6 separate regions of the Homo sapiens genome follow, and all the other regions are linked to region 1. The links come from fine-mapping of genetic effects on gene expression. A gene starts in region 1. Each other region holds a variant in brackets. All regions are shown on one strand. Distances are from middle to middle.

Region 1 (5,076 bases):
GAGAAGAAAACGACAAATTCTGCCATAAGCTGGTCAGCAAAGGTGTCACAAGGTACATCCCATCAAAAGAAGTATACATGTGAATGTCTCTTTTCTATTTTTAAAAATTATTCTCTAGGCTGATAATAAAAACTTGAGGAGATTTCTAAGATCCTTGAGGTTTCCAACCTTGATCTCAATGCTCTTATTTTTTAAAGAAAAAGAAAACCTTGAGAGGACCAAACCAGAGGTCTCATCAGATGACAAATGTTTTTTTGTCTGTGGGAGTGATATCACTTAATTAAACTAATTAAATGAGATAAAGTATGTAAAGTGCTTAGCAAAGAGCCAGGCAAACAATACCTGCTCAATAAATGGCCATGTTCATTCATTCATTCATTCATTATTAGATAAGCACCATTATGACGTGGGTGGAAACTCAGACATCTATCAATTTATCAATCCAATTTGTGAAACAGCTATAGAATGCTCTGACAGTAAAGTCAAACAATAAGAAGCAAAGTTTCCAAAGACTCTTTGGAGTAATATCCACACCCTCTCTCCGCCCCCGCCCCCGCCCCCCGTCTCTACCCCCAGCTTTCTGTGCTTCACATCCCCCCATCCCCACCTCCCAGTCTAGATTCCGCACTTCTTAAACTTGGCCCACTGGATCAAGCAATCTGCCAAAGAGCGCACCCTGCAGGCTCTTAATAATAATGCCTTTTGTTGATTTCAGAGTTTTGGTTCCGACAAGCTGCACCATTCCAACTGCCCCCTGGTGAGCTATCCGGGAGTGATAGCACGTTTCCTGCGTTGCTGGGATAGGACTCTAAATTTTAAAAACTGCCACCAAGTGAAATTAATTTTTCTAAGTACCAAGTTCAGGTTTGGGTGGCCTGGGGTGACTCTCTCATCTGGTTTATTGTTATAATCAAGCCCTACAAGCTTTTTTTTTTTTTTTCCAAAGTACGCGCCCACACGCACATAAACAATAAAGTTATATTTCTACAGGACTTGCACTGTTGGGAGAAGGCTGCACAGGCCCCAGATGTGCCTTTCGCGGAGATTATACACACTTGACACACATCCCGGAAGAGTGCAGAAGGCAGCACCTGGACCCACGGGAAAGTCCCCCACCCTTGTGCGTGGATTCCCAAGGCCTTTCTCTTGGGAAGCCAGCAAAGAAAAGGCAGCTGCTCCAGTGACTGGAGGTCGACCCGAGGCAGAGCTTTGTCCTCCCCGGGCCTCCCGCAGCCCCCAGTCCTGCGCCAGAGCTCGACTCCCGGGAGCCGCCCCGCGCCCCTTCCTAGGCACCAGGGCGGAGAAGGCGGCCCGCCCTGCGCCCGCCGCCGCCGCCCAGCCGCGGCTCTGGTTTGCGGCTGGGCAGGTGAACTCTTCTTCCCGCAGCTGGATGAATAATGAATGGAGCCGGGAGGGGAAGCCGAGAGCCAGGCGCTGTGGATTAAGCCGTCTTCCTCCCAGCCCGCCGGCTCCCTTCCCCCTCCCTAAGCACTGGCGGGGCGACTTCCCTGGCTCCTCGGAGCAGGAGGGAGCTCACAGCGCCTCGCGTCCCCAGGCCCGGCATCCCATGACCCCAAACTCTTGATTTACTTATTGACTCATTTATTTGGCTGAGCCCGGATTGCATTTGATATCATGGCGACAACTAGTCTCACGGCTTCCTTTTCTCTCCTGCGGCTCCGGGGTTTTACAGGTAGCTTGGAGCCTCGGAGGAAAACCAGGAGGCGGAGGGTGAAGTAAAAGAATGAACCTAAACTCTTATTAACCACTTTTGTTCTGGGAAGCAGGCTGGTTCGTGCTTCTCCGTACTGGAGAGATTTCTTTCAGTGCAACTGAACTGCCCACGACCAGAACACGCTCCAACCAGTTAGTTATAAAATCCTAACTGGACTTTAGGGGGAGACTAACTGAGGTAAGGAGGGCGGGAGAGCGATGGGGCTTTAAGATGAAAGACTGTATGTTTCTTAGGAACAGAAGTATTTTTAAACAGGTAAGAGCAATTGTTCGCTCCTCACCTGTGCTCCATGCAGTTGCTTTCCCTTCGGGGAAAGGTAGGTGGTGGAAAGAAAAAGGATCAGTTTCAGAGATGTCACCTCCATCGGCCACCCACCCACCCAAAAGCACTTAGGGCAGAGAGGGAGGCCGTTTCGGGGGTGTAATCCGAATACAAAACAATCAGGAGTAGGAATCTTATCAGAAAAAGCCTATTCCAGTTTCACTTCCACCTCACCCTTCCCAGAAAAACTTCCACCTCACCGAAATACCATAAAACCTGCTGAGATTTTTAAACTGCACGATCACTCACACATACACACACACACGCACACGCACACACACACACACACGCGGCACCGCTCTCTCACCTTCGGAATGATGAGGCAATACTGCAAATTCCGCCAACGCTAGGGCCAGCCCGAGCCACACTTTGAGGACACCCATCGCCGCCTCGGCACCCACGATGGAGGAGCCCAGCCTTCAGCATCCAAGAAGCGGCTCCGCCAAAACGCTGGCTCCGGCGCTTGGAACCCGGGCGCACTGAAGGTGGGGGACCGCGGGCCTTTACCTCCGGGAAAAAGAGATGGACGGGCGGAGAGCGACACTCATCAGCCCGGAGGCGCCGGAGCGGGCTGGGGTTCAATTCACTCGCTGCTCAGGCAGAGAGCGCGCCGAGTTCCCCCGCAAGGCAGGACGCCAACGTGAGCTTTGGGAGAATAAGAGGAGGCAGAGCACAGTTCTCCGCGTCAAAATCTCGCCGGAAAGTTGCTGGTCACTGGCCGATGGGATCTTCCAGCATTTCCCTCGGGCTAGACCCTTCCGATCCCGGGTCCCCGACAGTGGAAATCCTGGCTCTGGTTTGTCCGAAGCAGCTTTTTAAAGTTCGCTTGGCACCATACGTCGGCGTTGCGTCGGCACCGCGGGTCGCCGGGAGCCCCGAAAGACCCACCCACACCCACTCCTTGGTCGAGCCACCCGGCTCGGCAGACCTCATCTGCCGGGGTCCGCTCGCTGGAAACTGTGCAGCGCTGAGGGCAGCTCCGGGGACTCGCCCGCCCTGCAGCCGCACCGCACCACACCGCCTCAGGCTGCGCTCCCTGAAGCAGACTGTTCGGAAGCTTCAGAGGAAAGACTGGGGGGCGCTGCTGCTACTTTCTCGTCCCCGCCCCTCGCCTGGGTGAGGAGGGCTGCGGGGACGCGGCTTGCTGCACACCAACACCCACCTCCGCGCTGAACACCCCGGAGGAGGTCTGCAGGGTAGAGGTGCAATGATTACGGGAGTGGAAGAAGAGCCATAATTTTAATTGCACGGAGGAAAAAGCTAGCGAGGCTGGAAAAGACCCCCAAACTCAAGGCCACTCTGGCGAGAGAGCCTGGAAACGCCCAAAATACGCCGGGTCTGGACCCCGTGTTTAAAGGACACACGTTCAGCCTTCCTCTAGTCTCCCTTGCCTCCTTCCTCTCTGCTTTGCTCGGTGTGAAAATGGACCCAGAGACTCGGAGCTTTGGCGAAATTCCAGAGAGTCACGTGGGGAAAGGGAGAAGCGAGGAGGGAGGTGAGGGGAGGCCGGGAGAGCAACCTGATCCCTTTATTCATTCTGCTGGAGTTCAGATTGGCTTTGTCTGGGGAGGAATCAAAAGTGCTCATACCGGGGACGGAGGGGGTGGAGATAGGTTGCACAGTTCTTGCTCAGGCACACCGGAAGGCAGATGAACCGTGTCCACATCCCTTGTTAGGGGAGGAACCGATTCGGCGGGCTGGGGGAGCGTGTGCCCACATCAAAGGCCCTGGGGCTACCTCCCACCCCCACAGCCCGCCACTCCTGCTGAACTAAGTGCGTCCGGGGGACCTGATTGATCCTTCTTCCTCGCTCTGGGACCCTCAGGCTGTTGCATCCTGGCTTTTACCAGCAGCCCGGGAAGATCTTGGTGTGTGTGTCCTAGGCGGAGCCTGAGAGCAAATGCACCTTTCCCTTTCCCTAGGAGACTCTGTCAGTGGAACACAACGCGGTCTGGGAGCTGTGGGTCCAGCTGCGCCCCCAGATGCCAATGGCTGGGAAAGTAACATCAGGACACGGCCGACTGGGGCGCGCACTTGAAGAGCAGAGGCCTTGATTCCCCGCCAGGACTGACTGACGGCAGCTATTTTTATAGGACCGAATAAAAATAGCTGGTCCACGTTTAATCGTTTTATAAGGGAACAGTTGCATCAGAGAGATGCTGACTGGGTTCTGATTGGCCCAGAGAAGAAACGTCTCGGGTCCCTCAATTGAGTCGGGATGGGCGAAACTGTTGGAGGGGAAGCAGTTGCATGAGCTGTGCTGGCGGGGGTCCCACTTGTTTCCAGTCTTCACGAACACCATGACGCGGGCCCACGTTCTAACGTGCACTGACGCCACTTGGAACAATTCACTTTTCCGAATAACTGGAATAACTTGAAACTGGCAGGTCCCTGTCAGTGTTACTATTCAGCCAGAACAAAGGAGAACCTCTGACAACCTGGCTCTGAATCTTAAGTATTTGGAGGACCCAGGGTTTGCACATTTCGCCCTCAGTCTCTCTGTTGGGCTGTGGTCATTCTAGGGACAGAGGTTGTATCATCTTTGTATAATTGAAGCACATAGTAGGTGCTCTTTAAACATTTGTTGAAATAATGGATTAAGTGCCTGAGAGCAGCGGCCATATCAAGGGGAGCTGCGGGCCTTAACCTCCTCCCAAAAAAAGACCCCTCCCTTTTTATTTAGAAAGTAGGGCCTGTGCGGTGGCTCACGCCTGTAATCCCAGCACTTTGGGAGGCCAAGGCAGGCAGATCACGACGTCAGGAGTTCGAGACCAGCCTGGCCAACATGGTGAAACCCCATTTCCACTAAAAATACAAAAATTAGCCACGTGTGGTGGCACATGCCTTTAATCCCAGGTACTCTGAAGGCTGAGGCACGAGAATCACTTGAACCCGGGAGGCAGAGGTTGCAGTGAGCAGAGATCTCACCACTGCACTCCAGCCTGGGTGACACAGCGAGACTCTGTCTCAAAAATAAAGGTCGGGCGGGGCGGGGGGGTGGAGGACATCTTCTCAATCCA
Region 2 (5,076 bases), 22 kb before region 1:
TAATTAAGTTTTCAGCTGATCATTAAAAATAATTTTTAAGGATCAATTAATTGATTTTGGCCTATAATTCAGAAGGAGTTCAAAGAGACTATAACAAAGTCTTTCCTTTCCTATCTACTTATTATGTGAATGAATTCCACAAAGTTTACATCTAGACAAGTGAAAAATAAGAATAGAACTGATGCTGAATCCTGTCTCCTGTAGCAATAAATAATATGCATCCTGGATGAACTAACAGAAGAAAAAAAAGCCCCATTCATCTCATTAAGAGATGCATTTCCAATGAAACTGTACTTTCTAACATTTAACAAGTATTTATCAAAAATTTTAATGTATTTATGTTGTTTTGCTCAACTGTAATAACTCAATCCAAAGGAAATTACTTAACACTTTGAGCTTTATGTTCACAGGAAACATTACAAATGCTTTAAATTTAAATTTATATATGTATTTCATTGCAGAGAAGTATAATAGGGTGATCAGTAAAAGACTTTCAAGCATAAAGGTAATAGGATAAATTCCATAGGAAAACTGCCTCAAAAGTGAAAGTGTGAGAAAAAGAAAGGACATATATTTTCAATAAAGAAGAGTTTGTGTATTTTTTATGGGTGCCAGTGGGAATCAAATTGCTATAGTATTCAGATTCTATTGGAAACATTAGAGAGGGACGTCATAGTTCTATCCTAAAGTGTCATTTTTCAAATGCAAAAACTTACAGACATTGCAACTCATGCATCTTTTGATAAAAAATGTTAGATATAATATTTTAAATGTGTAAGGAGGTACATGGTTTTCAAACTATTTGAGTGGAATATGAGTAAGATGCGGGAAAAAAAGAATTTAAACAAGAAGAGCACAGACTTAAACCAAAGAAAATTAATCACTAAGCCTGAGAAGCAGCCCTCCTTTTCTAAAGGATATGGCGTAAGGAAGGAGAATGCCAAAAAACAAACCAGGGTTCTTTGAGAAAGGAGGGAGGAGGAAAGAAGGAAGCTTTCTTAGGTAAGAAGAGTGTTTGTCCATCCATCCATCAGCTACGATGCCCTGAGGCAGCTGCTCAGGCCTGGACTTCCTTAACTGTCTACCTTCTGACTCTGAGGCTCCCAGATTCTATCTCTAGCCAAGACAAACAGGTAAGTGAGGACCTACCACAGAGGGGCTGGGAAAGCTAGTGATAAGGTTCTTGCCAATTTATTGCCCAGGTTTCTCAGAAAGTCTGAACTCAATTAATATGTTCTTTTGGTTTCACCCCCTTACCCCTCTCCTTTCCAGGTAAACAATGGCTCTGAGAGGCTGGATAGGGGGAGTTCACATGTAGCCCAGAACTACCTACAATCATTGCTTTCTTTGGGCATCACAGTCTTGCTACAAAATCTATACCAGCACTGCCCAGCATGGGAGCTACTAGCCATGCATAACTATTTAAATTTAATTAAAAATAAATAAAATTTACAATCCAGATCCTCTTTCACACTAGCTGCATTTCCAGTGCTCAGTAGCCACATGTGAGTAGCAAACAACACAGATATGGAGCATTTTCACTGTGGCAGAAAGTTCTATTGAAGTTGCTGGTCTAGATTTCCACGAGGCCAATATTCTCCCTTGTGGGGACTTTTCTCTCAGGGAACCTGTTGTTGCCCTTTACAGTCTAGCTTTCCTTTCTGCAGCCCCACAAACCCCCATCCTCACAGTCTTTAACACATGACCTTAGATGTCTGAATTCCAGTTGTTTTCAGCGTTGAAGCTCTTTTCCAGGGGGATCCTAGGCCCCAAACAAATCAAGGTATGTAGCTAAACACTGGTTTAACATTTACCCAAGCTTTCTGTGACAGACAGATCGTGTTTCTCCAGCACAGGAAAGAGGACAGATTTTAGGGATGCATAGCCCATCTCCACTTGCCTGCACATCCCAGTTTCAAGTCTGATTCAGTAAGACGTCCTGGGACAGATTTAAAAGGTAATGTAACTATGAAGGATTTAAAAGAGAAACAAAAATAGTCTTGCCACAGAAATGGAAGATGAGAAGAGAAAATAAATATTCCAAAACTATAAAGGAATTTCGAGTGGTAAAGCATTTGTGAGCCCAAAATTAATGCATCTTAATATGCACCTACAGAATGCTTACATGTATCTGCTTGTACAATTGATGTATGCAGTTTAAACTATGTAATTATGACAAAAGCAGAACTGAGCATAGAAAATATTATTTCACACAGTATTTTCCAAAGCAGATACATACCAACTGTTCACATGCACAAACTCTGAACCATAGAATGTATCCAATTAAGATAAAAGCTATTCCACTTACAAAAGATTTGATACTTTAATCGACTTCTTGCCTATGATAGAAAAAAATGATTTTAAGTCTATACAGTTACAAAGAAACAAGCCTCACAAATATTTGGCCAAAGTGCTTTCCTATACATTCATCCGTTTCTCCTGAACACCTGAGCACATCAGCCTCTTATCTAATGGACACTTCTGAATACCGCAATTATGCCTCCTCTTCTAGCCCAAGGTAGTGCAGACAGCAAGCAGTCGGCTTTCTGTTCCCCAGGGGAATAAATCAATCAGGCTTCTCGAGGCAGAGGCACAGTGGTATCCATTTTGGCTTTTCACAGGCCTTTTATTGTTAGTTCCTGTTTCTTAGCTGTGTTCCAAACAAGTGAGTTTGCCAGAGAGCTGATTTGCTGCAAGGTGAGATGCCATTCCACCTGTAGTGTAAGTTGGCCCCTTTGGGGCCAAAGGGGAGTTAAGAGATAGGAAACCTGGTTCCGATGATGCTTTCTCCAGCAGCGTTCATTAGGCCAACCAGGCAGATGGCGGCTCTCACTTAAGACTTTGTAAGCAAGCCAAGCTGCCTCCAAATGTCTATTTATCCTTGTAGAGAACATCTGCTGCTTTCTCTTTGGCCAGC[G/A]TGCTTTCACTTTTAGAACTGCCCTCCTCCACTTGGCTGTGTAGTAAATCATAAGGTTTCTTCTTCCCCATTGAGGGTGTGATTTTACCTCGGGGTATGATCCTTGACTTGAGCCAGAACAATCAGAGTGTTTTCTGGAACTTTTGCCGGAGATAGCATCTCTGAAGGGGACTCACTTTTCTCTTGGAATATTAGCCATTTGAACTGTATAAATCAATGCTGCCATCACAAGGAGGCTGCCAACCCAGAAGAAAGTGTAGCCAAGAGAGATAGCATGAAAAACACATGTTGACATCATGTGAACGCATATATACCTCAGTCTCAAGCTAATTTTATCCCCTTGGACTTTCAGTTGAGGGAGCAGAACATTACAGACTTTGCTTAAGCTAGTTTGAGTTGAGTTTCCATTACTCACATTAAGAGTCCTAAATAATATAATTTTCATAGACTTTATCTTACTTTGCTCCTATCTTTGAGAAAGAACCTTGTCTAAGTTGTCCCTGCCACTTGTGGTTTGATTCCACCCCATCTATCTGGTCCATTCTTGGTTTTCTTCAGCCATTTTTTCTTCACTCTTTCAACTTCTGTCCTTTCTCTCCACTGATTCCTTACCCTCTACTTACAAGCTCTCTCTCTCTTGTTGACAAAAAAATGGGGTTTTTCCCCCTTATGAGACCCCAATCACAGAAAGACACATTTTTAAAATTAGTTTTAATCACAAGATTTGCATTGAGTACTCAGCCTTTCACTTAACATTACCTCAGAAATGTGCCATCATGGCCACATGCTCTTCTCATCTATTATCTTAATGGCTACATAATGTTCTATGTCAAGTTAATCTACGATGATTTACTTAACCACTCCTCTAATAGAGACATTTAGGTAACTTCTTATTTTATAACATACATAATGCCAGAAAGCAACTTCTTTACAAATAACTTTTCTTTCTTCTAAATTGATTTCTTAGGGCAAATTCCCAGAAATCTCATCAAAGCTGGGTTTAATAATTTAAAATTTTTAAACAGGTATAAGGTTATATCCCATTACTGATTTAGTTTTTACCTGGTTATTAACAACAATTCTTCTTAATATATTTGTTTGCTACTTGTATTTTCTCTTATGTAAACTCTCTATTCTTATTCTCAGCCACTTTAATTCCTAACATTTGGTGGTTTCTTAAATACTTACATGAATTATTTTTGGTTAGATTTACATTTTTAAATTTTTTTGTTCTTAATTATTATTGAATGAATTATTTATAAGTTCTACTATGTAATTCTTTGTAACACTAAATCTTTGAAAACCTGTACTTTATTTTTTCTTTTTAGTTTTACACTATTAGATATTTTTAAATGTCATCAAATTTGTTAATACCATCTTCTATTCCATCAACTTTTAAAAATTAATCATTCTCAAACTAAATGTTGGTTTTATTCTTACCAAGGTTTTATCCTTACCTTACAGTCAGAGAATATACTAACTAATGGCAGTGTAAATTAGTATGACTTCCCCAAAGGGCAATGTGGTAATATGTATTAAATGTATAGACAAACATGCTTTTTAAAAATGTATACCACATGACTCAAAAGTTGCATTGCTAAGGAATGTGCCCAAAGGAAATAATTGAAGAGTGCGCAAGAACATTCATCACAGTGTTGCTTACAACACCAAAATATCAAATTAATATGAATACCAATAAACAGGAATGTGTAAAATAACTTATAGTCTATCCATAATGAATAATAGTATAGAACTGTGTATTGACATAGAAAGATATCTATTATACAGTATTAAGTTAAAAAAATAGCTAGCCAAACAGTGTGCATATTGCAGTGCCCATTTTTGTTAAATACACACATAGGAAAAGTTCTGCAATAAACTCATCTAATATTTAGTATTAATTATTTTTGTTTGTGGAATTACTTGGATTCATGGAGTTTTCTTCCCATTCTCTCTTTTATATTTGCTGTTTTTTTTTTTTTAGAACAAGGCTGTATTGCTTTCAGTATAATAAATAAAGCAACATGGCCATTTTCTCTTAGAAAAAAACAAAAAAGAAAGTTCTTCCTCCTCAAAAGTTGGAATGATACTGTGTTTCTGTGTTTTGTGGTTTGGTTTTTGAAAAACACTACTGTTTACCCTTTTTAATTGCTTTCTGT
Region 3 (5,076 bases), 280 kb before region 1:
CTGACTACGACTAACATCACTAGCAATAGACTCACATCCTACAGCTGATAGGAATTCTGATTAGTCCAAATCCTGGACTCTGAATTTCCACTTTTTGTTGCACCTAAAAGGCTTGCACAGTCTCTACACTTGGGCTTCCGCTCCGAATCCAGCATTCTGGGCTGCAGCCCTGTGCTTGACAGTTTGGTTTTCTTAGGATATAGACCTTAATACCAAAATGTCTAGTCTTTAATGTCATATGCAAAAATAAATGGGTCACCTGGACCATGGCACCACCAGCCACAGGGAGCACAGCCACTGACTTGCTGTGCCCCGCCCCACCCTCAATCCACCAGACCGAACAGCCGAGATGTCAGCGCCATCCCAGACTGAATGTGCCTGCTGGATACTGTGATCTAGACAACTGGCCATGCCTCTTCCCTGCTCCAGAACAAGCCTGACAGCCTGGTCAACCTCTCAGCACACTTTCTCACCTTTCCCATTTGCCCAGTAGCATCCCAGGATCTCCCCAGTTCAGCCCTTCTGAGCTGAGGCAACAGCTAATAAAGGAGAAGCTCTGCAAGTTTTTCCCAGAGTTTGAAAAAGTGGATCAAGAAATATACAATAACCCATTACCCAGTAAATTCCCCTCCCCAGTCTATAGGCTCTTTGGTGGTGGAGTCATTGTCTCCTTCATCGTTTTCCTGTATTCTGAGCATCTGACCATTAGTAGGCACTCAAAAATGCACATTTGTTGTCTGAATAGATAGATGAACATAAATGATGTCTGGTTCCAACATTATTCAAATTTCAGACTGCTTTCCTAATTTTTTTTTTTAGATCTGAGTTCTAAAATGAGGAAGAAAAAAAAAATCCCATCTCCTAAGGCAACTGATCTACTTTTAGGTTAATCTCTCTAAAATTTTGTGTCTGGGGCTGATGGCAAAGATTCTCCACAACAAGAAGCAGGACAAAATGCAGACAAGAGAAAGGAAGGCTTGGAGTGACTTATTTTCAGAACACTTTTTGCTATCTTAAGAAGTTTTGAATGCATATAAAGGTGCTATTATCATCACTTCATTCTTCATTAATATGAGAGTCTGAGATTTTCAGGATTTGCAAGAGTATTATTAGAAGTTCTATTTAAATCCACAAGTATTTACTAAATGCCCAAGGAGAAGCAGTAACATGAGTTTCCAGACATGAAACAAATGTCTCCTATAAAAGAGCTCATAAACTGAGGACAAAGAGCCCCCTTAAGCCTGGTATGAAGAGCCCCGGCAGCTGCCCAGTGATTTCCGAGGAGTCCACAGGAGTTTCACTCACCAGCACAGTATCCCACGAGGTTGAGGAACTGCTCTTCCCTGCAGCTGGTCCTGCAGTTACCATTGGTAAGAGAGATGTGAGGGTAACAGGAGATGCAGTCAGACTCCAACGGCCCATGACACTGCCTGCAGGTTGGGTGACACTCTGGCAGGGGGACGAAAACCAGGATTGGAATTAGCAGCTCAGCATGTATATGCGTGAAGTATTTAATGCATTCCACAAATTACATTAAAAGCAGACCTCCAACTCTAATCATCTTTAGAAGATTCCTGAGCAAGCCGGGCACACCCTTGGACCTGACCTAGAGACTGCATTTCTGATGTCAAGGGCAGTACTGTCCATGAACACAATATGGAATCTAGAACTATAAATATGTGAGAAATCGGCCACACATTCCAGAGAGACCAGCATGATCATCTCCATCTGTGTAAGTAAGGAAGTTCAAATCATAGTCACAGAGCAGAAACACGAGTGGTAGGACTCCCTGACCCTAACATACCATGACTCAAAGAATGAGTGGGACAGGGAGAAGAAGGGGACATTTTGCTTCTCAGAAATTTCTAGCAGATGAGGGGGGAATCCACACACAGCAAACTATACTGCAACTTCTCTCTAGAGTCAGGCACCATCCAGACACTCCCTTCAAGCCACTACCACTGGGATGCTTATTTTATCAGCAATACTTAATTAAAATACAAAGAACAGAAAAAGTCCTCTTTCTGGAGGTTATCGTGAGCTGCCTCTGAAGTTCAATTCCTTAGAGACAAAGTTATGCCAAAGCTATGTCTTCTCCAAAAAAACCACCAAATTAACAAGAGATACAACACTGAAACAAACCAAGAGAGTCACGGTAAGGTGTAAGCAATAAGGATAAGGGTGGCAAAGAATCAGAGGCGGCTGCAGCTGCAGCTGCATTGACGCTGCCAAGGGAGCAGCAGGAGCAAGCACATGGAAGCAGATTTAAGAACTTCTCTGCCAAGGACAAGGAGGTCTAAGCAGGTCTGAGTCCAAGAGGAGGGGATGTGAAGGGCTGGAGCTGGGTAGATTTTGCAGGAACTGATGAATTCCCTCCTGGCACGTGGCTGGTGGGAAGCAAAGGCACAGATTTCAAGTAAAGCCTCTGGATTCTGGCAAGAGGCCAAGAGAAGATAAGGAGTTATTTAAGAAAAAAAAAAAGCAAGCAAGCAAGAAAATAAACTGCTGATTAGAAGGATAGCACTCTCACCCCTCCTACATTCCTGAGGCTCTCAATGTTGAAAGC[A/G]CCTATCCAAAAGACATAGCATTCTCTGGATGATTTCCAACACCCAGTTCTTCCTCCCTATCAGAATATTTCCAGTGACCTGGGTGCCCTGCTGCTTATGGTACCATCCATCTGCTGGCTCCCAGCGGAAAGAGGCATGGACAGAGAAGAGCTAGATCTACCCAGACTTTCCTCCCCTAAACAATTTTATACATACAAAAACCAGCTGGGCTAGGATGAAAGCACCTAAGGATAGAAACAGCTCTCAAGGGCAATCCTAATGACAAAGAAACCAGGAACATTCCCCCACTGAGCTTGACAGAGTATTTAAAGTAAAGCAACTCACCAGGGGACTGCAGAGATTAAAAAGACAGTTAGAAAAAGGCAAAGAATTCCAGAACAAATATAATATTGATCTTCAATCATCTAAATTTGTGTTCATTCTAAATCACTTCTTTGAAGTTTAAGGCTAGATGAATGTAACAGATATTAATTTATTTTAAAAACATGTCATAAGTTTATTACATTTACTGACTCCAGAAATTCATGTAATATAATTTCATATCAGTTGGCTTTTTCCTATCAGCAGGCCCCAACTGTCTATTTTTTAGAAATAAAAGAGAAATCATGATAGAATGTTTTTTTTCCTGTATATACCAAAAAAAAAAAAAAAACCACCACACACGGTGCTACAATAAAGTCCTTAAATTTTAGTACTGTGTCAATTCCAACAAAATTCTGTACTAATCCCAACTAGTGATTTTCAAAATCTCTGTCACTAAAACATAAAGGTGATCTTAAAAAACATACTGGACTGACATGTTAAAGAAGGAAATAAATACCTCCATCTCCTTTTGCTCTATTCTGCTGTAGCCCGGGGAAAGTGGGGCTGGGAAGTGCACAGTTACCTGTGCCAAATTCTTGATTCCATACAAGTGCATTAACACCCAAGGTAGCTTGTCTCCATGATGAAGATAATCAAATCCATCCCTAACTGTGTGCATAAGCCATTCCTCCACTGAGAGGTGTATTCTGTTCCTTCACCCGCTCAAATATGGGTTATCTTGCTTTGACCAACAGAATATAGCAGAAGTGACAGTGAGACTTCTTAGGTTAGGTGATAGGCAGCTTGCAGTTTCTGCTTAGGTCTCTTGAAATACTCATTCCAGGAGAAGACAGCTGACACATTAGAAGACTGACTAGCTGAGATTGCCATGCCATGAGGAAGTACAATTAGCCACGAGAAGAGGCCTCATAGAGTAAGAGATTGTTGACCAACCCAGGTGACAGACGTCAATGAAGAGCCCACCTGCAGGATCTGAAGAAAGAGCTGCCCAGCAATCCTCAGAACTGGGAAATATAACAATTGTTGTCTTAAGCCACAAATTTAGGGTGGTTTATTAGGCAATAATTGACAACCAGAGCAGTACCTCATTAAGAGGGAGAAAGTAAAAGATCGCCCTAGTGTCCTCAAGTGTCCCAGTTGCCAAATTTCATTTCTTATGTGAAAAGAAATGGAGCCAGATACAGTGACTCACACCTGTAATCCCGCGATTTGGGATGCTGAAGAGGGAGGATTGCTTGAGGCCAGGAGTTCAGGACAAGCCTGATAACAAGGTGAGACCCTGTCTCTACAAAAAATTTAAAAAAAATTACTTGGGCATGGTGGTGTATGCCTATAGTTCCAGCTACTTGAGAGGCTAAGGTAGGAGGATAACTAGAGCCCAGGAGTTCAAGGCTGCAGTGAGCTATGATCATGCCACTGCACTCCATCCTGGGTGACAGAGTGAGAATCCATCTCTTAAAAAAAAGAAAAAGAAATAGAATAATATGCAGCCATGAAAACGATAAATATACACACACGTATCTGTACATATAACATTTTATCACATAGAAAATTGCTTATGACAGCTGGGCATGGTGGCTCATGCCTGTAATCCCAGCACTTTGGGAGGCTGAGGCGGGTGGATCACGAGGTCACGAGATCACGACCAGCCTGATCAACATGGTGAAACCCTGTCTCTACTAAAAATAGAGGAGTTAGCTGGGTGTGGTGGCACGCACTTGTAATCCCAGCTACTCGGGAGGCTGAGGCAGAAGAATTGCTTGAACCTGGGAAGCGGAGGTTGCAGTGAGCTGAGATCGTGCCACTGCACTCCAGCCTGGTGACGGAGCAAGACTCCGTCTCAAAAAAAAAAAAAAAAAAAAAAAAAAGAAAATTGGTTATGACTTTATGTTTTGAAAAAAATATTAAAAAGTATAGCTCTAATTTATTCTCAATTATGTAACAACATGCATAAAAAGTAGATCAAAAAGGAATCTATCACCAGGGTAATATTTGTTGCTTCTAAGATGTGGCATAATCAGTTATCTTTATCCCCAAACCCCCATTTATTTTTCCTATTCTGAACTTTCAATCCTTCCACAATGAGCACATATCTTTTTAATAATCAGAAACATAAACTTTTAAACTTTTTTAAAAAGCCACAGGCTGGGTACAGTAGCTCACATCTGTAATCTCAGCACTTTGG
Region 4 (5,076 bases), 240 kb before region 1:
AAGTGCTTGAGGAACTTCATAATAGAAAAAAGTACAAACACGTAAAAAAAATCTTCAGCATCATCAAAAGCTGGAGATATGCAAACCAAACAGGAGAGCAGCAACTAGATGCACTGGATGAGACATGCACATTATATTTTTAAACTGCAATTACTTTTGCACCACCTAATAACATGTATGCATCCTAGAAACACTGCTTAGTGAGAAAAAAAAAAGTCAAGAAAGAAGGAAATATCTGGCTGAGTTTGGTGGCTTGTGCCTGTAATCCCAGCAGTTTGGGAGGCCAACGCGGGTGGATCACTAGAGGTCACGAGTTCAAGACCAGCCTGGCCAACATGGTGAAATCCTGTCTCTACTAAAAATACAAAAAAATAAAATTAGCCAGGTGTGGTGGCACACCCCTGTAGTCCCAGCTACTCAGAAGGCTGAGGCAGGAGAATCGTTCGAACCTGGGCAGGCGGAGGTTACAGTGAGCCAAGATTGCGCCACTGTACTACAGCCTGGGTGACAGAGTGAGACTCCATCTAAAAAAAAAAAAAAAGAAGGAAATATCTACTCAGGCATACAAAACAATAAGAGAATATACATACAAAAAGTACACACTAAATCACATTAGTGTAGTTATTTAAAAGGGGAGCTGGGAAGAAGGAGAATGGGAATAGGGCATGATAACAAAAGGAATAGACAGGCAGATGGATGGGCAGACAAATAAGCAAGAGAATAGCTTGGCCCAGACCAATGATGAAAATGGGCCATCAACTGACAAGCATGATTAACTCCACATGCTTCATAAGAATCCCCAAAATAGGTAAAAGATAAAAATTAAACAAGATTTCATTTTACATCAATCAAATTGACAATTTAAGAAGGCTTGTAATACCTAGTGTTGACAAGAGTGCTGGCAAGTAGGCACCCTTATACATTTCTGGTAAGAGTACAAATTAGTACAACTTTCTTAAAAGAGTATAATATGTTACTCTGTGTCAAAAAGCTTAAACACTGTACATAAACCTTTGGACCCGGTAGTCACATGTCTAAAAATTGATTCAAAAATATTTACCACAATTTCTACTAAAAATGTTTACATCATGGTTACATATAATTAAAAAAATTGGGAACAAATATCAAACCATAGAGGATTGGCTAAATGAATGATTGCATAGCCAGAGATGGAAAATTATACAACAGGTTTAAAAAGATGTTGTAGAAGGATAAGTAATAACATAAAGCAAGCAAGCAATAAAACTGTAAATAGAGTATGATTTTAGTTTTGAAAAAAAAAGTGTATGTGTATAGACACACAAAAAGATATCTTTATAAATTAGGAAGACATACACCAAAATACTAACAGTAGTGATTTAGGGGAGTTTGAGTTAGAAATTTTAGCTGACTTTTTATTATACCTTATATTTTATTGACTTTAATTATTTTTTTTTGGAATAAACATAAATTCATTTGGTATTTGGGGGGAATTTTGGTAATTTTCCTAATGATGGAGGGAGGAAAGCTATAGTCCTTTTCCCTAAGGTACATGCTAGGTAAATAACTTGTTAACCTATTAACCATGATTGTGATACAGCTGAATGATTTACCCGTCTTGAGTAATATATTTGAATTTTTAGCAGGGTCTTTGGTAGACACAGAACTTGAACCAAAGGAAATTACTTCCCAGCCAATGAAGGCTTTGGCAGGTCCACATGGACCTTTCATTGCTTCATAAGTCAGAGGACAAAGCAAGACATTCAGCTCATCAGGAGTATCTGGTAAAGTTATCTCTTCTATTTCCTGCCCCTCTACCTATATTCCTAAATCGACAACATAGGTATAATCCAAGGGTTTTCAAGACCACCAGCTTCTCAGCTTCTACTCATCCTCTGTGACCACTGAAAATCCACAGCTGCTAGGACTCCCTGTGTTCCCTCCCCAATCCTACACCCAGTGGCCCCTGTTAATTAAATGCCTATTGTCTACTCCAGTGATGTCTACTGAAACTGAAGAGCCAAAGGCGGGACCGCAAACCAAAACAACCTTTTGATGGGGAGAGTTTTCAGACCTCCTGGCTGCACTAACACAGCTGCTCAGATCTCAGCAGCAACAACAAGGAGGTGCTGTTAGCTCTGTGAGCAGCATAGAAGCAGGGGAGGGCAGAACAGGGACAGTGCTTGGGTGGGGAATGGAGAAGAGAAAGAACGTATGCCATACAGTCTAGCTAAAATAACTGAGAACCTTCCAAACTGGGCAGAAAGCCAGAAGACTTGTCACTAGTTTGTAATCCATAGCTGAAATACTTTGGGGTTCAGATTTGTC[G/A]GGAAGAATGGGATCTGTCTGAAAGATAAACTCTGTGGCATCTGTGGCAGGCTTTCTCTGCTGGTATGTGATACTTTTGTTCTGTCATTTGTCTTCTGGCATACACAGCAAGGGTCTAGAAGTGGCAAAGACAAATGCCAAACACAGCCAGCTTCCTGCCAAAGCAAAGGTCCCAGACACAACACCACCAGCTGTTTTCCCCTCTTCTCTCCATTTTTTCTGCATATGAATATAATATCCAAAGAGAGAGGGGCCTTGGAACACTGTTGTCACCTGCCTCATTGGGTCTTGTTTACTCAAAAAAACTTACATTCTAGGAAGGCAATCCTATTGTCTTCCCTTCTGAATGGCCTGAAATACTCCATGGACACGACCCAAGTTTTGAAGACAGTTGATTTTATAAGTCACATTCCCAACTCTAATAAAGCCCACAACTATGTTAAACATGAGGAAAAGAGAAGAAAAAGAGGGGTGAGAAAAATAGAGAGTCTGTAATTATCCTGAGGCCACCACTAGCCAGAAATTGCTGACAAGGAGCAAATAGTGGAAGCCAAATGGAAGATAGGTCATCTGTAAGCCAAAGTTTAGTCATGCCTGTACATTTCTGTTGATTGCTCTCTATGCAATGGTTTATCACATTTTTTCTATCAAAAATTATTCCAGAGGGCCACAGATATACTTAGCACCATGTGAAATTCAGAAGTATACGGCATGTCCCTGCCCCAATGACTGATCATTTCCTATCATATTCCCCTGTAAGGTATCTTTATAGCACTGATAATAATAATTTCATATAATGATAACTATCTAAGTATTTAATATTATCTTGTTTATTTGTTTAGAGGCACTCTCCTCCCATTGAGGAAGTTAAGTTCCTTAACTAGAGGGAAGTTTTCTGTCTGCTTCACTCTGTATCTCTGGTGTCTGGGACAGGGCGTGGTACATAGAAGAGGCTCCACAAATATTTATGCATGAACAGAATCGAAGAGACAGGAGATACCACTTGAAGCAACAAGTCACCTTTATGAGACAGTCAGCAATTTAGTAAGGGACCATAATTGCTGTAGAATGCCAAAGAAGTTCTGAACAATGCATAGGATTTAAAGAGTAGAACAAAATGAGTGAAGGCAGTGGTAGAAACATGCAGGGCCCCTAAACTGAGTATGTGACCCGGCAATGAAACTGAGACTAACCCTCCAATCCTGGGGTATGTTGCAAGGGCCATGGAGGTGACACCAGCTTGGCCATGACTATCCCAACAGAGAAAGGGGGGCCCCTGTCTTGCGAGGAGGGCTCCTGGATTTCAGAACAGTAGTTTCATAGGTGCCATTGTCAAGAGGTCCACCCAGGGCACAGCCAGGCTGGGATAAGTCATGTGTTGGAACACAACACCAAGACCCATTAAATCCCTGCTGCTTTGGACCTGGCTTTGCAAGGTCAGTGCTTCATTTCTGCAAATGACTGGCTGCTCCAGTCAACCATCGTTCCAACAAATAATTAACTTCAGAAGGTCCTCTGCTCAGGCCACAGCTTTTAAATCTCAACTAGGTCAACATCCTAGTTGTAAATTTTATAGGTTTTTTTATTATAAACTTTTCCTCTAAATATGTCACAATATTGGCTAAGAAACAAATAATCATAGATTCTCATTGTTTAATCTGAGCACTTAAAATTTTCTTTCCTTTTTAAAAGAAAAAGGGATTTTAATTTGCTATAAAGAATACAGTATACTGTTCTCTATATATTTACTTCTCCATAACATATAAAAGCAGATTTTATTTAGATGAGACATTAATGGCAGAAAGCTTTTTGTTACTTAATGAAAGCTATTTGGTTTTTATCTCTATAGGTTGAAAAATAAAGGAATGGTTTCAATAATATCAATAGCTGCCTTTTACAGTCCACATACTAAGGCCAGGCATAATGTATTTATACATTTCAAACAGCTTTTCTAACCTTCATAATAATGGTTTAAAGTAGATAATATCGTCCCCATTTTGCAGTTGAAAAAATTGAAGTTCAGAGAGGTTAAATGGTTTGCCAAAGCCCTCTTGCAGCAAGTGGTAGAGGTGCCATTCAAAATAATCCTATCCCTTATAATCCTGTAAAATGTTCAGTTGTTTGATTCTTTACGTCTCAAAATCTGAGACCATACAGCACTCAGATATAGAATAAACTTCAAAGGCTTTTGGATTTTGTTTTTGTTTGTTTTGTTTTATTTTACATCTCTATAAGCAACAACTAACCTGCCTTGACTGTGAGCTCACTATAGGCAAAGACTGAATCTTATTTACTTTATACACTTCATGTACTCAGGACCTAGAACAATGGTCAAAAAAGAATGAAAGGGGAAATGAAATAAAAGGAACAAGGAAGAAGGACAATAGAAAGCAGAACCCAAGTCTCTAAACTTATATGAAGGGCTTTCTAGACACCAGGTACCATCTCCTAAACCAGCGGTCCCCAACCCCCAGGCACAGATCAGTTTCAGTGTGTGGCCTGTTAGAAACTGGGCCACACAACAGGAGGCAAGCAGTGGGTGAGGCAGCATTGTCACCAAGCTCTGCCTCATAGGAGTGAGTGCAAACCCTATTGTGAACTGCCTATGTGAGGGATCTAGGTTGCAGCTGCTTATGAGAATCTAACTAATGCCTGATGATCTGAGCTGGAACAGTTTCATCCCGAAGCCACCCCCAGCTCCCCGGTCCATGGAAAAATTGTCTTCCATGAAACCAGTACCTCGTGCCAAAAAGGTTGGGGACTGCTGCC
Region 5 (5,076 bases), 370 kb before region 1:
GTGTCATTCTGAATGCATTTACTCCAAGTTTCAGAAATCACCCATTTCACCTATAGTTTAAGGAACTGGTTTCACAGGGTTCAAGGTGGGGCCGGGGGCAGGTGTGGGGCAGGGATGGAAGTGGGAACACGAAGAAGTCTCAAATATCAAAGCCAATGAAACTACACACAAAATAGCTCCTCATAGTCTGTATCACAAAGACGCTTTGCTCTCGTCTGAGACACATAACAACTGATTGTAGAGCAAAAAATCCTCCAAGCAGGTCAGTGACAGAGTGTGTAGGTGTGTAGCTACCTGTGGCCATCGGCCTTCGGAACTCAGCTGTATGCTTAAGAAGCACACCATGCTGTGGAGGTCTCCGAAGCTCAAAGAAGAGTTCTTTGGGCGCTGTCTCAGCATCTCTTACTACCACCTGAAGTCCTGCAGCAAGGAGAAGGAAGCGTGGTGAGAGAGAAAGCGTATGTTAAAGACGATAGACTATATATTAAAACCGCAGGCCAGGCTAGGAGTCATGCTGTGGGTAATCTGATTGTTATCAGAAAGCACTGCTTCATTCCAATCAGGCACAAAAGAGTAAAAACAGATAATACAGTCAATTCCTACACTGCAAGTAGGTGCTTCCAAAAGTTCATGTAAGGTAGTTCTGAATTTAGAACACCTTTTTTCTTCCATACAAATGACAGCATGCACAGAGGAAGCCCACAGGTAGGTCAACCCTGACTAGCTGGGTTAGATTTTCTTCCAGAAAATCCTCCTATAAATTGTTTGGCATTTCATTGTTTTGTCCCTTCTTATTTTTCTAAAGCTACAAAGAGCCAAGTGAGCAATGATCACAAAGGTGAGGTGCAGGGTTAAAGTGACAGGCATCCTTGTACACATGGCTTATTTGTAAGTTTGGTAAAAATTAATTTTAGGCCAAACCCCATATGTAGAAACTGGATAAGGATCTCTAGAACACACCTAACAAAAATCACAATACCTACTGTTTATTAGTAAAATGTTCTTGATAAAAGAATACATTTCTAAAGATTAAATTCACTAATTAGTACATATAATTATATACAAAATAACTGGGTCAACTCTAGTTCTTCACAACTTCTGAAGCTTCTTGTGACCTGACATTTCTCCTGCTACTCTTCACTTTCTAAATAGAAACAAGAGCCGCCATTGAAATCCTGCTCCCCTCTATGTTCTTCTCGCCGCTCTATTACTTTATATTTTAGTGATGGCATCAAAGCAAACTCCCGGAAAATCAGTTCTGTGTTGTGTTCCACCACTGAACACTGGCCTCTGAAGGCTTCATTTCCTTCTCTCTGTGCGGCTTCTGTTTGCATAGAAATGGGCAGGAGGAAGGATACAGGTGAGAATGCAGGCAACTTCTGGAAGAAGAGTTTGCTTTTTTGGCAACCATCAAGAGGTTTGAAGAGGGGCAGCAATATGATCCCATTTCCAAAGCCATGTTTCTATCAGGCTCCCAGTTCTTACCTACAGAAGTGCTGCCTCCTGGGCTGACCGCCAGCCGTGGAGCTGTGACCTGGAACACTGGCAGTTGCTGATCACTGGGAAGTAAGTGAATGGTGAGGACCATCTCCGGACTTGTGTGTTCTCCATCTGAAACTAAAAAGGATAAATGCACACACACACAGAGACACACACACACACACAGAGACACGCACACACACACACGAATCAACTTGTAGTCTGGTCCTCTTCAGGCAGTTTCCACAAATATGTAGCTAGAAACTTTTTTGCACTACTTTAACCTTTGAAGAGATGCTTACAAATGAAGAAAGTAAGCAAGCAAGATACTGTGAGCTATTCTTTTTTCTATGGATAAGAAAAAAGATAAAGAACCATAATAACAAAATCATTCTAAGAGGCTACTTTCACAACAAAGGTGATCTTGATAAATGTTAGTGGAAAGGAAGGTAACACAAAATCTGCACCCATAGATGCTACTGGTAAAGGCTTTTGATTATGGAAATATTTCTTGATTCAATTCATTCCCTTATTATTCCAAATAAATATTTTCTTTCATGAACTCTTTTAGAAGTGGCA[A/T]GTCTATGTCTCATTAGAAAAGAATACTTTTGGCCGGGCACAGTGGCTCACACCTGTAATCCCAGCACTCTGGGAGGCCGAGGCAGGCGGATCACGAGGTCAGGAGATTGAGACCATCCTGGCTAACACGATGAAACCCCATCTCTACTAAAAAATACAAAAAATTAGCCAGGCATGTTGGCGGGCACCTGCAGTCCCAGCTACTCAGGAGGCTGAGGGAGGAGAATGGCGTGAACCTGGGAGGCGGAGCTTGCAGTGAGCCGAGATTGCACCACTGCACTCCAGCCTGGGCGATACAGCGAGACTTCGTCTCAAAAAAAAAAAGAATACTTTTTAAAAGGACAGACAATACCCATACCAATGTCTCTAATGTCATTAGTTTGGAAGTAAGCAGATCCATTTTTACTTGGTCATGATGCACAATGACATAAATAGTGAACAAAACAGTGACCTTAAGATTTTATTTCCCTGGATTTTTTGACATCCAAGTGAACATCCATCTCTGAGGAAAATACGAGAGCAGAATTGCCTCACCCTTGATGCTTATTTCCACTTTTCCATAACTTAACACCCTATCTTTTCCCCAAAAGCCAGTTTTGGAGGGATATTTGCATCATCAGCTCATCAATGTGTTTATCTGTAGTGGTCTTTAAGAAAACTGCACTGTTAATTATTTTAAATGTGTGATAAGCTTGTCTATGTGTTGGTTATGAGAAACTAGTTTCCTTCCTCACTTTCTTCTGGACTTACTAACAAGCCAGCAAGAATCTTGCTTAAGCAAAGTCAAGCATTGCTCAGCGACGTGTAGTAATGATTCTATTCAAGTTTTAGATTTGTCTTTCCCTTGAGACAGATCTGAAAGATATGGTTAAATTTTATAAGGTACACTCCATGTCTTGGAGATGTTCAGAAACAGCCCTATTGAAGGTAAGACGACATTATCCATGTGAGAATGAAGGTTTTATGGCTCTGGTCATTCAGACAAGTGTCAAAATTATTGTCATTGCTTCTTTACATTTGATCTCCTCTCTGGATCTTCAAAAATAGGCACAGATGGTTCTTAATTATTGGGGATTTGGTGACAAGCATACAAACTTTTTCATAAGTTTTAGTGGATTCAGGATGCTCTGATGTCTCTGTAATCTAAGATAAGAACTAGTTGCAAAATGCAATTTTATTTTACTTTATATTTTACATTAGTTTTATTTCTGAGTGGGAATGTCTTAGTCCATTTTTTGTTGCTTATAACAGAAAACCTAAAGCTGGGTAATTTATGAGAAGAGGAATTTATTTCTTTCACATATGAAGGCTGGGAAGTCCAAGGTTGAGGGGGTACATTTGGTGAGAGCCTCCTGGTGTTGGGGACTCTGTGAAGAGTCATGAGGCAGTGTAGGCAGTCACGTGGCGAGGGGGCTGAGCTTGTGATTTTAAGTCTCTTGTTCTCTTTTTAGAAAGCCACCAGCTCCCCTCCCATGATTAACCATTAATCCACTAATCCATTAATGATTAAACCATTCATGAGGGCAGAGCCTTCAGGTTTCAATTACCTTGTAAAAGCCCCACCTCTCAATACTGCCACATTGAGGATTAAGTTTCAACATGAGTTTGGGAAGGGACATTCAAACCATACCAGGGAGGAAGTCCAGGAAGCTTTCAACATCCTTATTTTACAGGAGGAGGGAAAAGGTACAAAATTAAAGAGCTTTGGTCACATCATACAGCTGTTTAGTGTGAACAAGGCATATTCTTGACTCTGTAAGTAAGTGGAAAAAAGCTATTTTCTGGTGCATATTACATAACTAGCTATCACTTGGGTGCAGGGTTTTGCAAGCAATCATATAAACTTCCAATCAAAATGTCAGCAACTGCATATTTATCCCTCTCTTTAAGGAATGTCTCTAATTTCTTTGAGAAACAGTCAAATGCCTTTTTGGGCTAAATGCCCCTGTGAGCACCACTTGCCTTAAGTGTGTTCCTTGCTCAGAACTGCTCTCCAGAGCTTCTGCATTTGTCCTAAAGTCAGTCAGGTCCCAGGAACATCAGCCTTCCTTCTCATCTTAGCTGATTCACCAAAATGGGTGGTTCTCCTTCATTCTACAAATTAATGTCAGCTCTTGGGCTTTTTCCTGCCTTATTCATTAACTGTCCAATTTAAAATTCTCTCTCACAAAACTCTCCAAAACGACATGGCTTTCTACTAGATACCAAGGGTTTTTCTTCTTTAAAATCAATAAAAAAGGAACATCTGGCAGAAGCAAGATAATTTAAGGTCAGCCCAAGGTCTAGGCCCATGGGACTGTATAATAGGTTCAAGATCATTTAACTTAAAGTCCTAGACAAGTTAATTGTTAACCCTTCACCTACTCAAGCTTTCAGGTAAGAGTTGAGGCTTGGAAACCAAAATGGCATACTACCATGACACTCACTTTTCATAACCAACACACATACATGTCAGACTAAACTAGCTATTCCATGCTCATGCTCTAAGTCAGAAACTTGTATTAAAATCCTGCTTCTACTGTCTACCTGCTGTGGAAATCTGAGCAGATCATCTACTTTTTTTTTGAGACAGGGTCTAACTCTGTCACCCAGCTAGAGTGCAATGGCACAATGATGTCTCACTGCAGCCTCAACCTCCCCAGTTCAAGCAATCCTCCCACCTCAGCCTTCTGAGTAGTTGAGACTACAAGGAATATTACTATGTGCGTGGGCTGGTCTTGAACTCCTGGGCTCAAGGAATCCTCCCTCCTCACACCTCCCAAAGTGCTGGGAGTACAGGTGTGAGCCACTGCACCTGGCCAGGTTATCTACTCTTAATGACTTGGTATCCTTAGGTTTAAAATGCTGAAAATAATATCCATCCTTAAAATATTGTTATAAGAATTAAATAGTACAATTTTTATTGTAAATTGTTTTATAAAATATAAAAATCTGCCATATATCATTACTGATTGTATGAATTATGTAGAGGCCTATGACTAGAAATGAGCTGATACTGGGTTCATATCAACAGTAACA
Region 6 (5,076 bases), 57 kb before region 1:
AGCTGGACGGAGAATGACTTTGATGAGCTGAGAGAAGAAGGCTTCAGACGATCAAACTACTCCGAGCTAAAGGAGGAAGTTCGAACCCATGGCAAAGAAGTTAAAAACCTTGAAAAAAAAATTAGATGAATGGCTAACTAGAATAACCAATGCAGAGAAATCTTCAAAAGACCTGATGGAGCTGAAAACCATGGCACGAGAACTACATGATGAATGCAAGCCTCAGTAGCTGATTCGATCAACTAGAAGAAAGGGTATCAGTGACGGAAGAGCAAATGAATGAAATGAAGCGAGAAGAGAAGTTTAGAGAAAAAGAATAAAAAGAAATTAACAAAGCCTCCAAGAAATAAGGGACTATGTGAAAAAACCAAATCTACGTCTGATTGGTGTATCTGAAAGTGACAGGGAGAACGGAACCAAGTTGGAAAACACTCTGCAGGATATTATCCAAGAGAACTTACCCAATCTAGCAAGGCAGGCCAACATTCAAATGTAGGAAATATAGAGAACGCCACAAAGATATTCCTCGAGAAGAGCAACTCCAAGACACATAATTGTCCGATTCACCAAAGTTGAAATGAAGGAAAAAATGTTAAGGGCAGCCAGAGAGAAAGGTCAGGTTACCCACAAAGGGAAGCCCATCAGACCAACAGCTGATCTCTTGGCAGAAACTCTACAAGCCAGAAGAGAGTGGGGGCCAATATTCAACATTCTTTAAAGACAAGCATTTTCAACCCAGAATTTCAAATCCAGACAAACTAAGCTTCATAAGTGAAGGAGAAATAAAATCCTTTAGAGACAAACAAATGCTGAGAGATTTTGTCGCCACCAGGCCTGCCCTAAAAGAACTCCTGAAGGAAGCACTAAACATGGAAAGGAACAACTGGTAAGACCCACTGCAAAAACATGCCAAATTGTAAAGATCATCAAGGCTAGGAAGAAACTGCATCAACTAATGAGCAAAATAACCAGCTAACATCATAATGACAGGATCAAATTCACACATAACAAAATTAACCTTAAATGTAAATGGGCTAAGTGCTCCAATTAAAAGACACAGACTGGTAAATGGGATAAAGAGTCAAGACCAATCAGTGTGCTGTATTCAGGTGACCCATCTCACGTGCAGAGACACACATAGGCTCAAAATAAAGGGATGGAGGAAGATCTACCAAGCAAATGGAAAACAAAAAAAGGCAGGGATTGCAATCCTAGTCTCTGATAAAACAGACTTTAAACCAAGAAAGATCAAAAGAGACAAAGAAGGCCATTACGTAATGGTAAAGGGATCAATTCAACAAGAAGAGCTAATTATCCTAAATATATATGAACCCAATACAGGAGCACCCAGATTCATAAAGCAAGTCCTTAGAGACCTACAAAGAGACTTAGACTCCCACACAATAATAATGGGAAACTTTAACACCCCACTGTCAACATTAGACAGATCAACGAGACAGAAAGTTAACAAGGATATCCAGGAATTAAACTCAGCTCTGCACCAAGGCAACCTAATAGACATCTGCAGAACTCTCCACCCCAAATCAACAGAATACACATTCTTTTCAGCACCACACCACACCTATTCCAAAATTGACTACATAGTTGGAAGTAAAGCACTCCTTGGCAAATGTAAAAGAACAGACATTATAACAAACTGTCTCTCAGACCACAGGGCAATCAAACTAGAACTCAGGATTAAGACACTCACTCAAAACTGCTCAACTACATGGAAAATGAATAACCTGCTCCTGAATGACTACTGGGTACATAATGAAATGAAGGCAGAAATAAAGATGTTCTTTGAAACCAATGAGAACAAAGACACAACATACCAGAATCTCTGGGACACATTAAAAGCAGTGTGTAGACGGAAATTTATAGCACTAAATGTCCACAAGAGAAAGCAGGAAAGATCTAAAATTGACAACCTAACATCACAATTAAAACAACTAGAGAAGCAAGAGAAAATACACTCAAAAGCTAGCAGAAGGCAAAAAATAACTAAGATCAGAGAAGAACTGAAGGAAATAGACACA[C/A]AAAAAAAACTTCAAAAAATCAATGAATCCAGGAGCTGATTTTTTGAAAAGATCAACAAAATTGATAGACCACTATCAAGACTAATAAAGAAGAAAAGAGAGAAGAATCAAATAGATGCAATAAAAAATGAAAAAGTGGATATCACCACCTATCCCACAGAAATACAAACTACCATCAGAGAATACTATAAACACCTCTACACAAACAAACTAGAAAATCTAGAAGAAATGGATAAATTCCTGGACACATACACCCTCCCAAGACCAAACCAGGAAGAAGTTGAATCTCTGAATAGATCAATAACAGGCTCTGAAATTGAGGCAATAATTAATAGCTTACCAACCAAAAAAAGTCCAGGACAAGATGGATTCACAGCCGAATTCTACCAGAGGTACAAGGAGGAGCTGGTACCATTCCTTCTGAAACTATTCCAATCAATAGAAAAAGAGGAAATCCTCCCTAAGTTATTTTATGAGGCCAGCATCATCCTGATACCAAAGCCTGGCAGAGACACAACAAAAAAATAGAATTTCAGACCAATATCCGTGATGAACATGGATGCAAAAATCCTCAATAAAATACTGGCAAACCGAATCCAGCAGCACATCAATAAGCGTATCCACCATGATCAAGTGGGCTTCATCCCTGGGATGCAAGGCTGGTTCAACATACAAAAATCAATAAACGTAATCTAGCATATAAACAGAACCAAAGACAAAAACCACATGATTATCTCAATAGTGCAGAAAAGGCCTTTGACAAAATTCAACAATCCTTCATGCTAAAAACTCTCAATAAATTAGGTATTGATGGGACGTATCTCAAAATAATAAGAGCCATCTATGACAAACCCACAGCCAATATCATACTGAATGGGCAAAAACTGGAAGCATTCCCTTTGAAAACTGGCACAAGACAGGGATGCCCTCTCTCACCACTCCTATTCAACATAGTGTTGGAAGTTCTGGCCAGGGCAATCAGGCAGGAGAAGGAAATAAGGGATTTTTCAATTAGGAAAAGAGGAAGTCACATTGTCCCTGTTTGCAGATGACATGACTGTATATCTAGAAAACCCCATCGTATCAGCCCAAAATCTCCTTAAGCTGACAGGCAACTTCAGCAAAGTCTTAGGATACAAAATCAATGTGCAAAAATCACAAGCATTCTTATACACCAATAACAGACAAACAGAGAGCCAAATCATGAGTGAACCCCCATTCACAATTGCTTCAGAGAGAATAAAATACCTAGGAATCCAACTTAAAGGGACATGAAGGACCTCTTCAAGAGAACTACAAACCACTGCTCAATGAAATAAAAGAGGATACAAACAAATGGAAGAACATTCCATGCTCATGAGCAGGAAGAATCAATATCATGAAAATGGCCATACTTCCCAAGGTAATTTATAGATTCAAAGCCATCCCCATCAACCTACCAATGACTTTCTTCACAGAATTGGAAAAAACTACTTTAAAGTTCATATGGAACCAAAAAAAGAGCCTGCATTGCCAAGTCAATCCTAAGCCAAAAGAACAAAGCTGGAGGCATCACGCTACCTGACTTCAAACTATACTACAAGGCTACAGTAACCAAAACAGCATGCTACTGGTACCCAAACAGATATATAGACCAATGGAACAGAACAGAGCCCTCAGAAGTAATGCCGCATACCTACAACTATCTGATCTTTGACAAACCTGAGAAAAACAAGCAATGGGGAAAGAATTCCCTATTTAATAAATGGTGCTGGGAAAACTGGCTAGCCATATATAGAAAGCTGAAACTAGATCCCTTCCTTACACCTTATACAAAAATTAATTCAAGATGGATTAAAGACTTACATGTTAGACCTAAAACCATAAAAACCCTAGAAGAAAACCTAGGCAATACCATTCAGGACATAGGCATGGGCAAGGACTTCATGTCTAATACACCAAAAGCAATGGCAACAAAAGCCAAAATTGACAAATGGGATCTCATTGAACTAAAGAACTTCTGCACAGCAAAAGAAACTACCATCAGAGAGACCAGGCAACCTACAGAACGGGAGAAAATTTTTGCAATCTACTCATCTAACAAAGGGCTAATATCCAGAATCTACAATGAACTCAAACAAATTTACAAGAAAAAAACAAACAACCCCATCAACAAGTGGGCAAAGGATATGAACAGACATTTCTCAAAAGAAGACATTTATGGAGCCAAAAGACACATGAAAAAATGCTCATCATCACTGGCCATCAAAGAAATGCAAATCAAAACCACAATGAGATACCATCTCACACCAGTTAGAATGGCGATCATTAAAAAGTCAGGAAACAACAGGTGCTGGAGAGGATGTGGAGAAATAGGAACACTTTTACACTGTTGGTGGGACTGTAAACTAGTTCAACCATTGTGGAAGTCAGTGTGACGATTCCTCAGGGATCTAGAACTAGAAATACCATTTGACCCAGCCATCCCATTACTGGTTACATACCCAAAGGATTATAAATCATGCTGCTATAAAGACACGTGCACACTTATGTTTGTTGCGGCACTATTCACAATAGCAAAGACTTGGAACTAACCCAAATGTCCAACAATGATAGACTGGATTAAGAAAATGTGGAATATATATACCATGGAATACTATGCAGCCATAAAAAATGATGAGTTCATGTCCTTTGTAGGGACATGGATGAAGCTGGAAACCATCATTCTCAGCAAACTATCGCAAGGATGAAAAACCAAACACCGCATGTTCTCACTCATAGGTGGGAATTGAACAATGAGAACACATGGACATAGGAAGGGGAACATCACACACTGGGGCCTGTTGTGGGGTGGAGGGAGCGGGGAGGGATAGCATTAGAAGATATACCTAATGTTAAATGACGAGTTAATGGGTGCAGCACACCAATATGGCACATGTATACATATGAAACAAACCTGCACGTTGTGCACATGTACCCTAAAACTTAAAGTATAATAAAAAAATGAATAAATAAATAAATAATAAAGTAAAAATTTAAAAAAATAAAATGCCCGACC

Alleles and levels. Positions count from the first base shown, and alleles are read on the strand shown. Sizes are in standard deviations (SD) of each study's normalised expression.
With allele G in place of A in region 2, the expression in cerebellar hemisphere of the gene that starts at base 3,126 in region 1 is lower (moderate effect, 0.47 SD a copy in GTEx).
In carriers of allele A in region 3, the expression in lung of the gene that starts at base 3,126 in region 1 tends to be lower than with G alone (small effect, 0.36 SD a copy in GTEx).
With allele A in place of G in region 4, the expression in aorta of the gene that starts at base 3,126 in region 1 is higher (small effect, 0.39 SD a copy in GTEx).
As copies of A replace T in region 5, the expression in tibial nerve of the gene that starts at base 3,126 in region 1 goes down (moderate effect, 0.70 SD a copy in GTEx).
As copies of A replace C in region 6, the expression in prefrontal cortex of the gene that starts at base 3,126 in region 1 goes up (small effect, 0.29 SD a copy in ROSMAP).

Evidence for each region.
Region 2: its variant is fine-mapped to the expression of FRAS1 in cerebellar hemisphere (GTEx, PIP 0.95).
Region 3: its variant is fine-mapped to the expression of FRAS1 in lung (TOPMed, PIP above 0.99). The same link has a PIP of 0.9 or more in spleen.
Region 4: its variant is fine-mapped to the expression of FRAS1 in aorta (GTEx, PIP above 0.99).
Region 5: its variant is fine-mapped to the expression of FRAS1 in tibial nerve (GTEx, PIP above 0.99).
Region 6: its variant is fine-mapped to the expression of FRAS1 in prefrontal cortex (ROSMAP, PIP 0.92).

What each region holds. Positions count from the first base shown.
Region 1 is chr4:78,055,373-78,060,448 of GRCh38, reverse strand. FRAS1 (Fraser extracellular matrix complex subunit 1) reads right to left here and starts at 3,126. Exons shown (of 74, transcript NM_025074.7): 1 at 2,364-3,126. The coding sequence starts at 2,439. RefSeq lists an enhancer at 3,569-4,540.
Region 2 is chr4:78,077,729-78,082,804 of GRCh38, reverse strand. The region is part of intron 2 of FRAS1 (Fraser extracellular matrix complex subunit 1); the gene reads right to left. Among named protein-coding and RNA genes, the nearest start is that of FRAS1, 23 kb to the right of the region's middle. The variant G/A (reference allele first, on the strand shown) is at 2,918.
Region 3 is chr4:78,334,047-78,339,122 of GRCh38, reverse strand. FRAS1 (Fraser extracellular matrix complex subunit 1) reads right to left here. Exons shown (of 74, transcript NM_025074.7): 20 at 1,306-1,449. Among named protein-coding and RNA genes, the nearest start is that of SNORD161, 48 kb to the right of the region's middle. The variant A/G (reference allele first, on the strand shown) is at 2,567.
Region 4 is chr4:78,291,214-78,296,289 of GRCh38, reverse strand. The region is part of intron 14 of FRAS1 (Fraser extracellular matrix complex subunit 1); the gene reads right to left. Among named protein-coding and RNA genes, the nearest start is that of SNORD161, 4.8 kb to the right of the region's middle. The variant G/A (reference allele first, on the strand shown) is at 2,308.
Region 5 is chr4:78,425,636-78,430,711 of GRCh38, reverse strand. It overlaps FRAS1 (Fraser extracellular matrix complex subunit 1), which reads right to left. Exons shown (of 74, transcript NM_025074.7): 36 at 1,486-1,617; 37 at 295-420. Among named protein-coding and RNA genes, the nearest start is that of ANXA3, 120 kb to the left of the region's middle. The variant A/T (reference allele first, on the strand shown) is at 2,059.
Region 6 is chr4:78,112,779-78,117,854 of GRCh38, reverse strand. The region is part of intron 2 of FRAS1 (Fraser extracellular matrix complex subunit 1); the gene reads right to left. Among named protein-coding and RNA genes, the nearest start is that of FRAS1, 58 kb to the right of the region's middle. The variant C/A (reference allele first, on the strand shown) is at 2,040.